Linked DNA regions of Homo sapiens. The protein of the gene in region 1 interacts with the protein of each later gene in a biochemical or structural test. Each region holds a gene or a part of one and is shown on either strand. Other genes may lie near its edges.

The links.
Region 2: the proteins of MYBL1 (region 1) and NLK form a complex in vitro, tested with the Homo sapiens proteins (one study listed by BioGRID).

Annotation. Positions count from the first base shown.
Region 1 is NC_000008.11:66,561,481-66,568,331, forward strand, and holds the end of MYBL1 (myb-related protein A), read right to left. Parts: intron 5,786-6,851; coding exon of another isoform or gene 5,774-5,785; exon of another isoform or gene 5,519-5,773; intron 5,513-5,518; coding exon 5,396-5,512; intron 5,309-5,395; coding exon 5,204-5,308; intron 4,764-5,203; coding exon 4,584-4,763; intron 3,346-4,583; coding exon 3,217-3,345; 3' UTR 695-3,216; downstream 1-694. UniProt on the Homo sapiens protein: Transcription factor that specifically recognizes the sequence 5'-YAAC[GT]G-3'.
Region 2 is NC_000017.11:28,192,370-28,196,881, reverse strand, and holds the end of NLK (serine/threonine-protein kinase NLK), read right to left. Parts: intron 2,301-4,512; coding exon 2,246-2,300; 3' UTR 501-2,245; downstream 1-500. UniProt on the Homo sapiens protein: Serine/threonine-protein kinase that regulates a number of transcription factors with key roles in cell fate determination. Positive effector of the non-canonical Wnt signaling pathway, acting downstream of WNT5A, MAP3K7/TAK1 and HIPK2.

The DNA.
Region 1 (6,851 bases):
TTGCTGTTTACATATAAGGAGAAAATGTGCCTAGTCCTCTCAGTTTTATTTCACGCTATAAATTAAGAGACTGGCATTATAATTTCATATATCAGTCATAAACTTGAGGTAAGCCTTCTACTGAGAGGTAAACTCACTTTTAATGAGTTAATTTCCTCAGACTTCGGAGCCTACAAGGCTAAAGATAGAATCTAGATGGTGATGAATTTACCGAGGTAATAGAATACCAAACAGCCCTGCCTGGATGACCAGTGTGCCTTTCCCAGATGACACCCTTATGCCACTGCTCAATTTCTTGACATTTCTATAGAATGGAGACAGAGGCCATATGCAGGCTGAGAATTCACAGCTGACTTCAATGTGGAGGTGGGTGATTACTCAGTGGGTAAATGAAGGGAAGGCAATACCACTAAGTGACAGAACAAAGGGCAGGTCAAAGTTGGGAAAAAGAGGAAATCTGCTTTGAACATATGTTTAAGGCGCCAACAGGAAGTGTCATGTGAAAGTATCTGAAAGACAGCTGGAAATCTGGTTTTAAATGAGGCTCTATAAAGGCGCAATGTTGTATTTATTGGTAAAATCACCGTAAAGAGAGTTCTAAATGAGAAAAAAGGCCTAAGAACAGAATGTTAAGTCTCTAAGGATTCTATCAGTCCTTATAAAGCACAAAACCAAGTGAATGAGCAATGCCAAGTCAGCTTGTACACAGATGCTTTATTTTGGATGTTAATATGTCAACATTGTATGCAAGATTCTCTTACAATGAAGTTTTCCATATATCACAAAACTCAATTTAGTCAGGGTAATTGCTGTATTAATGTGAAAACCTTACAATAAAATGCAGTATTATGTATGTGTAGTCAGTTTCCATGCAAGTATGGCTGCTACATGTTATGTCTGGCATTTGTATAACATACTGAAAGAAACTCAGAGGAACAAAACAGTATAAAGGTGACTTAAGATGCCTGACATGTTTAAGATAAAAAATCTTGCAAAAAGCAACAAAGCAGTTAACTGAAGGATTCAACCAGTACCAACCCAAATATGTATTATGTCCAATAAGCCCAGACTTATCCACAATATATTACCATTTAGGATAATTTAATGCTCAAGAAAAAATATGCTTTAAAAAATATAGCCTTACAAGATATTATACTTTGGTGATTGCAGACTATGTATATCCAGGTAAGGGCTACATTAAAAACAACAACAACAAAAAACCATTATGTGCTATTAGTTCAAGGTAACTGAAATGATCCAGTATGAGTTTGCTACAATCATTGGTTTCACTAAGTGAAATTTCTGTGAGAAGTTCATTAATTAGAAAGCAATCAACATACTTAAACATGCTAAGAGGATTCAAATTGGTTTATCTATTTATCAATAAGGCATAATCTTAGTACCATACATTTTCTTCACTTCTCACTATATATATATATAAATATATATATATATAAAATATGCAAAAACTAGCAAGTAGATTTAAATAGCTTAAAACCCTTTTAGGTCTACTGTTCAAGAGCTAAGCATTAAAATACTTAGTATTTCCATTTCTATTAACATACAAACAGAGCAGAAAATCTTAACCTGCTTTCATTTTGTTTTATAAGGCATAGTAGTATTTTGGTATTTGCAAGAATTTGCCTGGTAATGGTTGATTCCATTTAGTTAACTTGAGAACTTGCCATCATTTGTTTTTTATCTTTTCACACAGTGCAAGTGGTGGTCGCTCTTTCCTTCTCTCGTAGCAGCAAGCCGATTCTGCTATTTTCTATAGCAGCATACTTCAGGAGTGGAGAGGGAGAGAGTGTGTCAATTATAAATAATTCAAACTACAGTGTACAATTCTATTTACCTGTCAGTGTTTAAGTTGACAGCACACCATTATATGACTGAAAAAAAATTACATATAATCTCTACCACAAAAGCAAATAAAAATTCTTTCAAGAAGAAATAAAATAAGTGCAAACACCTAAAACAGGCAACTGAAGCAACTGTTGTAACCTGTAGAGAAACACAAAACATTTAAAAAAGGACAAAATATTTTTATAAATAAAAGATAATGTTCTCCACTTCTGAAACACTGAGTAAATATAAACTTCTAAGTGCAGACTGTTTTTAGGGACCAAGGTACCATATTATTTTTTAAACAAAATGCAAAAATTTCAAACACATATACAAATCACCAGATTAATGTATATGACCACCCCCGATATAATTTAAAAAGAAAATATTAAATTATTATTTAGTACATTTTTAGAACTACTTTATAACCAGCATGATTTAAAGGGCATAGTGCAACATTTAGGTAGATGTGACATACAGTATAGATATTGTATTCTTTGCAGCTATAACTTACTACTGTTTCATACTTAAAGTCAAAATTATTCTTTACTGTGTTAGCTGTAATAACAGGAAACAACATTGGCTTCTAGGCACCCTGTATACGTATAAATATCTACATTTAAGCTTTAAAAATAAAAATAAATTATAAAAACAGACTTCTTTCCAATTTACAAAGTTCTCCTGCTCCTACATACTGTACAATACATTCAACAAAACTCTCAGCTCCTCTGAGATTAAGAAAATACTATTTACTAATAAAGAAAAAACTCTTTTTTGAATGCTTTTTGTTTTCAGTACTATGCTCAAATAAATACATTTAACACTGTAGTTAATTTTACTGCTTCTGAAAAAAAAAACAAAAAATTAGTAGTGCAACTTTCTATCCTTCCTTTAAATTCCTTTTCAATGTGTTTCTTTGTAAATGGTAGCCTAAGTAAATCAGCACATGGGCAAAAGTACTTCATAAAATCATGTGTGCTTTCCATACATAGACTAATTTCAGAAATCATATATACTCATACACCTATCTATAACAAAACTGCAGCATCAAGAGAGTAGCAACATATATCTTGTGAAGAAAATATATGAGAATTTACTTTTAGAAATCCATGAACATTCTATTATTTTCCCATCTTGTTCTTTAAAAACAATTTTTAAAAATCTCATCTCTTAAAAAATAAACTATGAAACTATCTACCCCTTAAGTGACTTACTAGCTTTCTGCCTACTATATAGAATAGAAAAAAGATGCTGTATTAAAAGGGCTATCTTACAACTTTAAAAACAACTAATTGAGAAAAATTTCACTGCAACCTAATTTAGTAGAGACTGCAGTAAGGGAGTGGGGCATTTCATCAATTTTAATAACAATTACAGTATGAGAGCTCTTGAAGTACTACTGGTAGCTGTGTAAGTACTCAGATATCTTCTTGCTTGTTCAGTCATAATAAGTTGGTCTTCTGTCTTCCCATAAACCACTGTTTCCCATTCACAATTTGACTAGAAAGGAAATATTAATAGTGACATGAAAATTATTAAAATAGCTATCTATATCACAATTAGACTCTTAAAGTCAGTTATTTTAACTGATTAGATATTTTATAAACAATAATTATAAAAATGTTTTAACAATGGCACTGTATTTTTTTAATAATAATGTTTTAAAATATATACTGAAATATTTTTTATCAAGTTTTTAAAAAGTCAATTATTTTAGCTATCTATATTGCTTACAGGCCTATGGAGGCAGTTTAAAAGTCTTGTCCCCAATAATTCCCCCCAAATCAAATGAGTCTTAACATGGAAATAAATGTTAGTCTTTATTGCTTCAAAATTTTGCAAAAGATTTAAAGAGAGGATGTAATGTCAAAAAATGAGCCAAGAATGCTTTATTTACAAATTAGGAAATATATTCATAACAAAAAATCAAGCTTATGTTTTTTTCCTTCCCTTATTTTAAAGATTACTATGTTATAGATGTGATCTTCTATATAATAACTTTCCCCAAAAGTTCTATGTTAATTAAACGCCAGGAACTCAAATCATTTTACATGGATTAAGAGAATGTGCTACATGGCTCTTAGAAAGCAGTGGCTGAAAACAGATGTAAGGTGGTCATATGTAATTGCCAAAGACGTTTTCAAGGTATGCTTCAATATCAGGAATACTAGTGCTGCAGTCACTGTGGCATAAAGAAGAAAATTTCCTACTCAATGAACTCTCAAATTCTCTGGGGTAAACTCTTAATGCAGTAAAAATTTTTCCAACCTTCATTTGCAGTTACACACTGGTCGTATCCCAACAGAAAAAAAAAAGGACTTTGTTTTACAACTTCTGAGCCAAAAAGTTCACTGGAAACCATGGTACCAACAAAATCATGCTGAAACTGCTTCCAACCACTTACCCTTTTTCAGAATAGCAATTAGGGCTATACATATTTGTTACAGGAGAAGAGGTGCCAGAAGTAGATTTATATATCTTTAGTTTAAAAAAGATACAGTGCTTAGGAAATCACCAGACCAGTCTTTGGTTACAGCTTCAATTGTTTAGTTTATATGTGCCCTGATGAATGAGTCGCTCAAACCCAAATGTGAGTGATAAAATAATGGTAAATGTTTAGTTACTGTTACAATCAATTTTGAATTTAAAAGAAAAAGTATAATTTGTGATCAGTAAATCCAAAGTGATCATTGACTAAACAAAAACAAAAATCACTAAAGAAATTTATAAATCCATACCTGAAGATTCTTTTCCAATTTGACAACTTTGGAAGTGTTAGGGTTTGGTTTCTTTTTAGTAAGTGTATATGTTTTGTTGGTTGAATTTATATCTTGTTTTTCAGGAATCAAGTTGCACCTATTGTCATGTATTTCCAATAATGGTATCATTAATAAGGATGTAGTAAATCTATTTTCTGACTAAGAGAGAAAAAAGAAAGAGGAAAATAACTAATTCAAAAATGGAGACAAATGGAGGGACTACTGAGTAAGTGGTAATGGAAGCCCTGTTTATTTCCCTCCAAGAAAGCATTTGGCTCTGATGAAATTTCTAGTAATGTAGTAATATTATTTTGGAAATGAACCAAAGATAAACTTTGATATTTAAAATCTTGAGAACTACGATTTTTTGACATCAGATATAAGGCAGCTAACTCCTCTCATAACAAAAGAAATATAAAAAAAAGTAAATAAAATATTCTCTACAGTGAATAGTTTCTCTGTGAATTAGGCAAAATGATACTAAGATAAAAATTCTCCATGAATTTCTAATGAACTGGCTACACAATGAGTAAGAAATAAGAACCTCTAGGACTTAAAGCAACCATTTAAAATAACAACAATAATAATCCTTTACAAACCTGCATGTCTGAAATGTCTTCAGTCAACAGTTGAGTGCCTGATTCTTCTTTTTCCCAATTATCTAAGACTAGTGATTTTCTGACTTTCTTCCCAGAAGCGGTATTCTAGAATGAGTAATTTATGTAGAAGCTTTATGGCAAAGTCTCTTGGATACAATAAGACTTTTATTAACAATAATACTAGAAGATTACCTCTTGTTTGCAGCTTTTGTAAGCAGGTTCATCTTCCTCTTTGAGGAATAGGTCTGTTCCAGTTTCTTCTTTTAAAACTTCCCGAATATCTTCTTCCAAGAAAGCAAGTGGCTGGGACTAAATTGTTTTTTAAAATGTTGTAAAAAGTCATTTATAGCAATTCCTTTTTCTCCCTATATATAGGAAACCCATCTTTTATACTTGTCCATTATTGTCATAATTTTCTCCTAGCCCCTATAGATACATTAATTAAATTAATTCATGTTGTGGCAAAACAATATTATACATTTGCAAGTACTGAGTAAAGAATAGCAATTTCTTCTTTCTAGGCTACTAAACAAAAATCTTCCTTTTGGGGAAACCACTGTAGCTCCTGCTTCAGGTCAGGATCTTCAGAATTAAACAGAAAAGAAAGATGTTATTTCTCAAGTTTTTTTTACATAAAAACAGGAAATATAGAACATATTGGGAATACACTAGCTCTTATTCTACTTTTATTGTACTTATTACATAGTATGTAATTACTAGTTAACACGTTTGTTACCACCAAGATTGTGAGATACTTGAGAGCAATGGTCAGGTCATTTTCATCTTTGTATACCTAGCCTAAGCAAAGAGCTGACACAGTATCCAAGAAGACAGAGAGAGTGAGTGTGTGTGTGTGTGTGTGTGTGTGTAGTGTGGGAGGGTAGGTTACAGAGAGATAGACACTTGAGTGTCAGCTGAGTGATGAAATAGTCTCAAAATATTATTCATCTAGCTTTCTGTCAAATAGGTAAGCACAACTTATAACCCAGAAAAAATTTAAAAATTATATCTAACTTATACCTTTCATAACCAAGATATACTTGAAAAGGTAATAAAACCTCTACTAAATAAAAGAACTGGCAGCACTTAATAACCAGCAGCTGCTGGGCATGGTGGCTCATGCCTGTAATCCCACTTTGGGAGGCTGAGGCGGGTGGATCATGAAGTCAAGAGATCATGATCATCCTGGCCAACATGGTGAAACCCCATCTCTACTAAAAACACAAAAATTAGCCGGGGGTGGTGGTGTGCACCCCGGGAGGCTGAGGCATGAGAATTGCTTGAACCCAGGAGGCAGAAGTTGCAGTGAGCCGAAATCACGCCACTGGACTCCAGCCTGGGCAACAGAGCCAGACTCCGTCTCAAAAAAAAAAAAAAAACAACAACAACAAAACAAAAAACAAAAAAACACCAGCAGCTTATGTCCCCAGCCAGCAAAGTTAGAGAGAATGGTATTCATATATAAATGAGATTTCACAGCACTTACAAAAACTTTTAAGATGAAAACAAATGTTAAAAGTATTCTCATCTAGACTGAGACATACAGGAATTATGTTAGTGTTTCCGTATACTTCTCAAAGAGCTTATTATTATTATTTACTTATTTATTTATTGAGATGGAATCTTGCTCTGTCACCCAGGCTGGAGT
Region 2 (4,512 bases), on another chromosome or scaffold:
GGGAAAGTATTTTGAAGTCAGGCAGTCTGGTTTCAGGCCTTGATTACACCACCACTGGGCTGGGACTTCTTCCTTAGCTGAAAGTACCTTTGGGCTGCTAGAGGCAGGAGGCAGAAGTGAAGAGGAGGGAGGTGTCAAGTCCCTTTACCAGTCTGCTTCATACAGAGCAATCTACTTTTATGTATTTAATATATTGGACTCCAAGATATTGCTTCAAAGAAAAAAAAGTTTGAAAACCACTGGATTAGAGACTCCAAGGTCTAAAAAGACTTCTCTATTGTGTATATTTAAATCACATCTTTGATATTGATTTAACTAAATTTTCAATATGTTTTTGTCAATCTAAAGTTTTTGAGAAGATTTTTAAAAACAACCAATTTCCTCAAAGATCAAAGTGGAAATATAAATAGGAAGTGTCTCAAAACTTTGCAAAGTCAGGATACGAGCTGTACTGAAGAGAAAACAAAGGAAAGAAACTGAAATAAAACAGATGACACATCTTTTTCAAATGTCACATTTAATGTTTTCACCACTGTACTTCAAATCTACATTGTACAAAGTGACCAGAAAGTGTGCCACGGTAATTGACCAACCTCTGAGATTGTACCTTTCACACCAGTGTCTTCTTGGGCTCTTTTGATACTAAACACGTTTCTCATTCAAGTGAATTGAAATGCTTCAGTTGGGTTGATTCTCAGGAGCCTCATAAAAAAAAAACAAAGATATTGCACCATCTTTGTTTAGTAATTCAATGTTTGTTTCTTTCACAGCAAATAATTACTTCATTGAAGTTAAAACTTCCAAACATAACTTATTAATAGTCTTCAAATTCAGCTCAGATCACTCAAGTTGAAAATACTCTGCTAAATACAGATAACTTACAATAACTTTAACAGTTAATTGTCCATAACACACACCAAGGTTTTTTCCTAGACCAATTTTAAGACGATCCATTAGTATTCCTTGTACAGGTGAAAAATGATCTTCAATTTTCTTGTCTTTTTATTTTTAATATAAAAGTTGGAAGGGACATTCAAGTTTCAAGTCTCCACACTGAACTCAAAAAAAAAAAATAGTCATCATCAGCATGTGGAGGTAAACAAGCCAAGTTGTATAACTCCAGGAGGTAGAGGCCTTCGATTTGTATTCATATGTACATATGCACAGAAGAATTCAGTGTTCCAACAGAAAAAAAGAACTTGTCAAAAAGTAATAAGTTATTTACTACTGTGACATTTCAAGACTCCCACAGCTTTGCCTAAGGACACAAACACATTTGACATAATTCCCTATGTGCCTTTTTTTGTGGCTTAAATTTTTTTTTAAATTTGTTTTTGTCTTTTATTATTTTTTTACTGTCCAGTGCAGGAAAAGTCTCACAAAATTTCACAGACCTAAAATGTGCAAGCTAGTTCTCTTTCTATACAGCAATATTGGGATTCTTTTGAAATTAGCCCAGAAATGAATTATTTACACACATGAAAGATGCATGCTTGGGGTTCTTTTATGTAAGAAAGAGCAGAAAAACTTCTAATAAAAATAGATTAAATATATATATATATATTTATACTGGGTAAGGAAAACAAAAGTTTAGTCTCTCCTAGTCACAAACTCATTCTCTCTACCCACAACATTGGATTTTAGACAGCACACATCACCATCACGGCTCTAATGAGAAGCTAATTATAGGGCTTGATCATTAGGTGGCATGCCCCTCCTCCCTACCCTCCCCCCAGGTGCAGCCACGATCAGCTCACGTGGCTCCATGATTGGTCGCAGGCAAGGTTCCTAGATTCTTTAGTTTTAGAAAACCCCAAATCTTTAGGAATGGCTCAAATATCAAAATGTATGACTGTCCTTTGTGTTTGTGTGTGTGTGTGTGTGTGTGTGTGTGTGTGAACAATCTCACTTCATTTTAGAAAAGAAAAACAAAACATAAAACCCCAAACTCCCAAATTTGGTTCAATTCTCTTTTGTTCTGAGGTGAGCCATAACAGCTGCACTAAATTCATAAAACATGTGCAACTCTGGGTAAAATATTTTTCTTCTAAAAGCACAACCACTTTACAAGATTAAAAGTCTAGTAACATTTCTAAATATTATTCATATCATACAAGTAGTGGTTGTTAATTTAAAACTTCATTAGTAAAATTACAGTACAAGCATGATTAACCTCCAGAATTGCAAATCCCAGACTCCAGTGGAAAGCTACATTACATCTTCAGTAGTACATTATCTTCCACCATCACTCCCACACCAGAGGAGATGGGGGCATCTCAGATGGCTGAGCAACAGTGGAACTGGAAGAAAACAGAGATGGAGAAATTAGTTGTAATGTCACAATGGACAAAAGGGTAATTCACTACTTCCTGTTTTCCTCTCTTCCTCTGAAAAAATTAATTCCACTTCTGGATTTTTATTTGTTTCTTTGAAGTTGAATTTATTCTAAGTTGCTTGTTTATGGACCTGTTATCTATGGAGAGGCAATCTGGTATAGTGGCTAATATGTAGGCTTGAAAACCACATGTCATTTACTAGTTGTATGGCCCTGAGCAAGTGCCTTAATCTCTTCTCATTTGGAAAGAAATAATGCTGTTTACCTCATAGGATACTGGGATGAATAAATGATAATAGATGTGAAGTATTTTCCACAGTGCCTACTTCAAAGTGTAAAGTAAATGTAGGTATTACAAGTAATAATTTCAATAATCAATCAGGAAAATAACCTTAAGGGATGTAGAATCATCCATTTAAAAGTAGCCTCTCAAAATACAGTGGCCTATTTTGAATGGGCCTTATAAGCATTCTTTTATCAAGTATTAATGGAGAAGTATAGGTAATCATTTAGCATTGGTGATCTAGATCTGTTATTGGCTTTTTCCTATGTCTAAGATTGCTAATTAGATTATAAACTTGAGAGGGAAAAGTGTAACCCCTTGTTTCCCCAAGGCCCAGGATCATTTGCACCTAAGCTGCTAAACTGCCTAACTGACTGGGTCACTGACTCTTAGGGGAAAATAGTAAAACAAAGTAATTTAAAACCACAGATAAGTAAAAGTGCAACTTAATTCCTTCTTCCAATAGAAAAATACATGGAAGAAATGAAAGTCACCTGATTTTGCAAATTTTAAGCATAAAATCTTGACTGTGGTCCAACAAATCCAACCAACTTTAATATGATTAAAGGGAAAGGGCAGCAGGAAGAGAGAAAAAGGAGAGGAGAAAGGCAGCGGGGAAGATAGAGACTGTGTGACCACTCATATCCGAATCCACCCTTTGTCCTGCTTTGTGATACTGGAGCCAGACCCTGTTCATGGTTCCCCTTTGCCACCTAGCTTAATGTTAGCTTTTGTCAACAGAGGGTGCTGGAAGGGCATTTGCAAGGCTGTAGCATCAGGAAGCAGTCTCCCTTCCTTGGTTTGTTGTGCCTGTTTTTGGTCATGTGGAAGGCTCAGCTTTGGTCCACCCGAACTCTCCTGGCAGGCAGTCTTTGATGGACCAGTTCTGGCCACACCTTCTGGCACACTTCCTCTTCTGCACCACCCTCGTGCTGTGTGTTCCAGTTCCTGTGGCAGCCATACCCTCTCCAAAGAGGTCCTTACATGAGGAACCTCTTCTAAATTCTTAATTCCTTTCTTGTTTACTCTCCCTCAGTCTACAGGGAGTGGCTGCTTTCTGCATTTGCTACTTCAGCAGCCTTCAGAATCCTCTTTTATGCCTTTTAGCAGTTGATCATCTTTCCTAGTTAACAGTTCTTATTACTGAATTTTCCCCGTTTGTATTCTAGGGAAGTGGTTTATTTCTCCCGATTAGACCCTGATCAATATATAAGGAGTTAAGGAAAAAGAAATCAAGAGAAGGAAAGGACAGACAGACAAGGAGAATGAAGCCTGGTAACTTCCAATGTAGGTTCATAGCTCTACCATATGCCTTTTGACTTCTCCTCTAAATAGGCTACACCAGCAGTCCACCTACACACAAAAAAATTATTTTCTTGCTTGCAGTTATTACTAGGGAGTGAGAATGGTAGTGGGAACTGAGATGACCACGTCTAACTCCAGGACAGGTGGCCACCATACTAATGCTGCAGCAGGACTGCCATATATGTGATGAGGCAGCACAATGGTCATCCGGGGAAAAAATTGCCAAAGCAACCGCAGTGAACTGGCACCAGTGTAAAATGTGATGCTTACAGTTTTTTGTTTTTTTTTTTGAGATGGAGTTTCGCTCTTGTTGCCTAGGCTGGAGTGCAATGGTGCGATCTCGGCTCACCGCAACCTCTGCCTCCCGGGTTCAAGTGATTCTCCTGCCTCAGCCTCCCAAGTAGCTGGGGTTACAGGCATGCACCACCATGCCTGGCTAATTTTGTATTTTTAGAAGAAACAAGGTTTCTCCATGTTAGTCAGGCTGGTCTTGAACTCCAGACCTCAGGTGATCTGTCTGCCTTGGCTTCCCAAAGTGCTGGGATTACAGGCATGAGCTACCGCGCCCAGCCCAGATGCTTACAGTTTT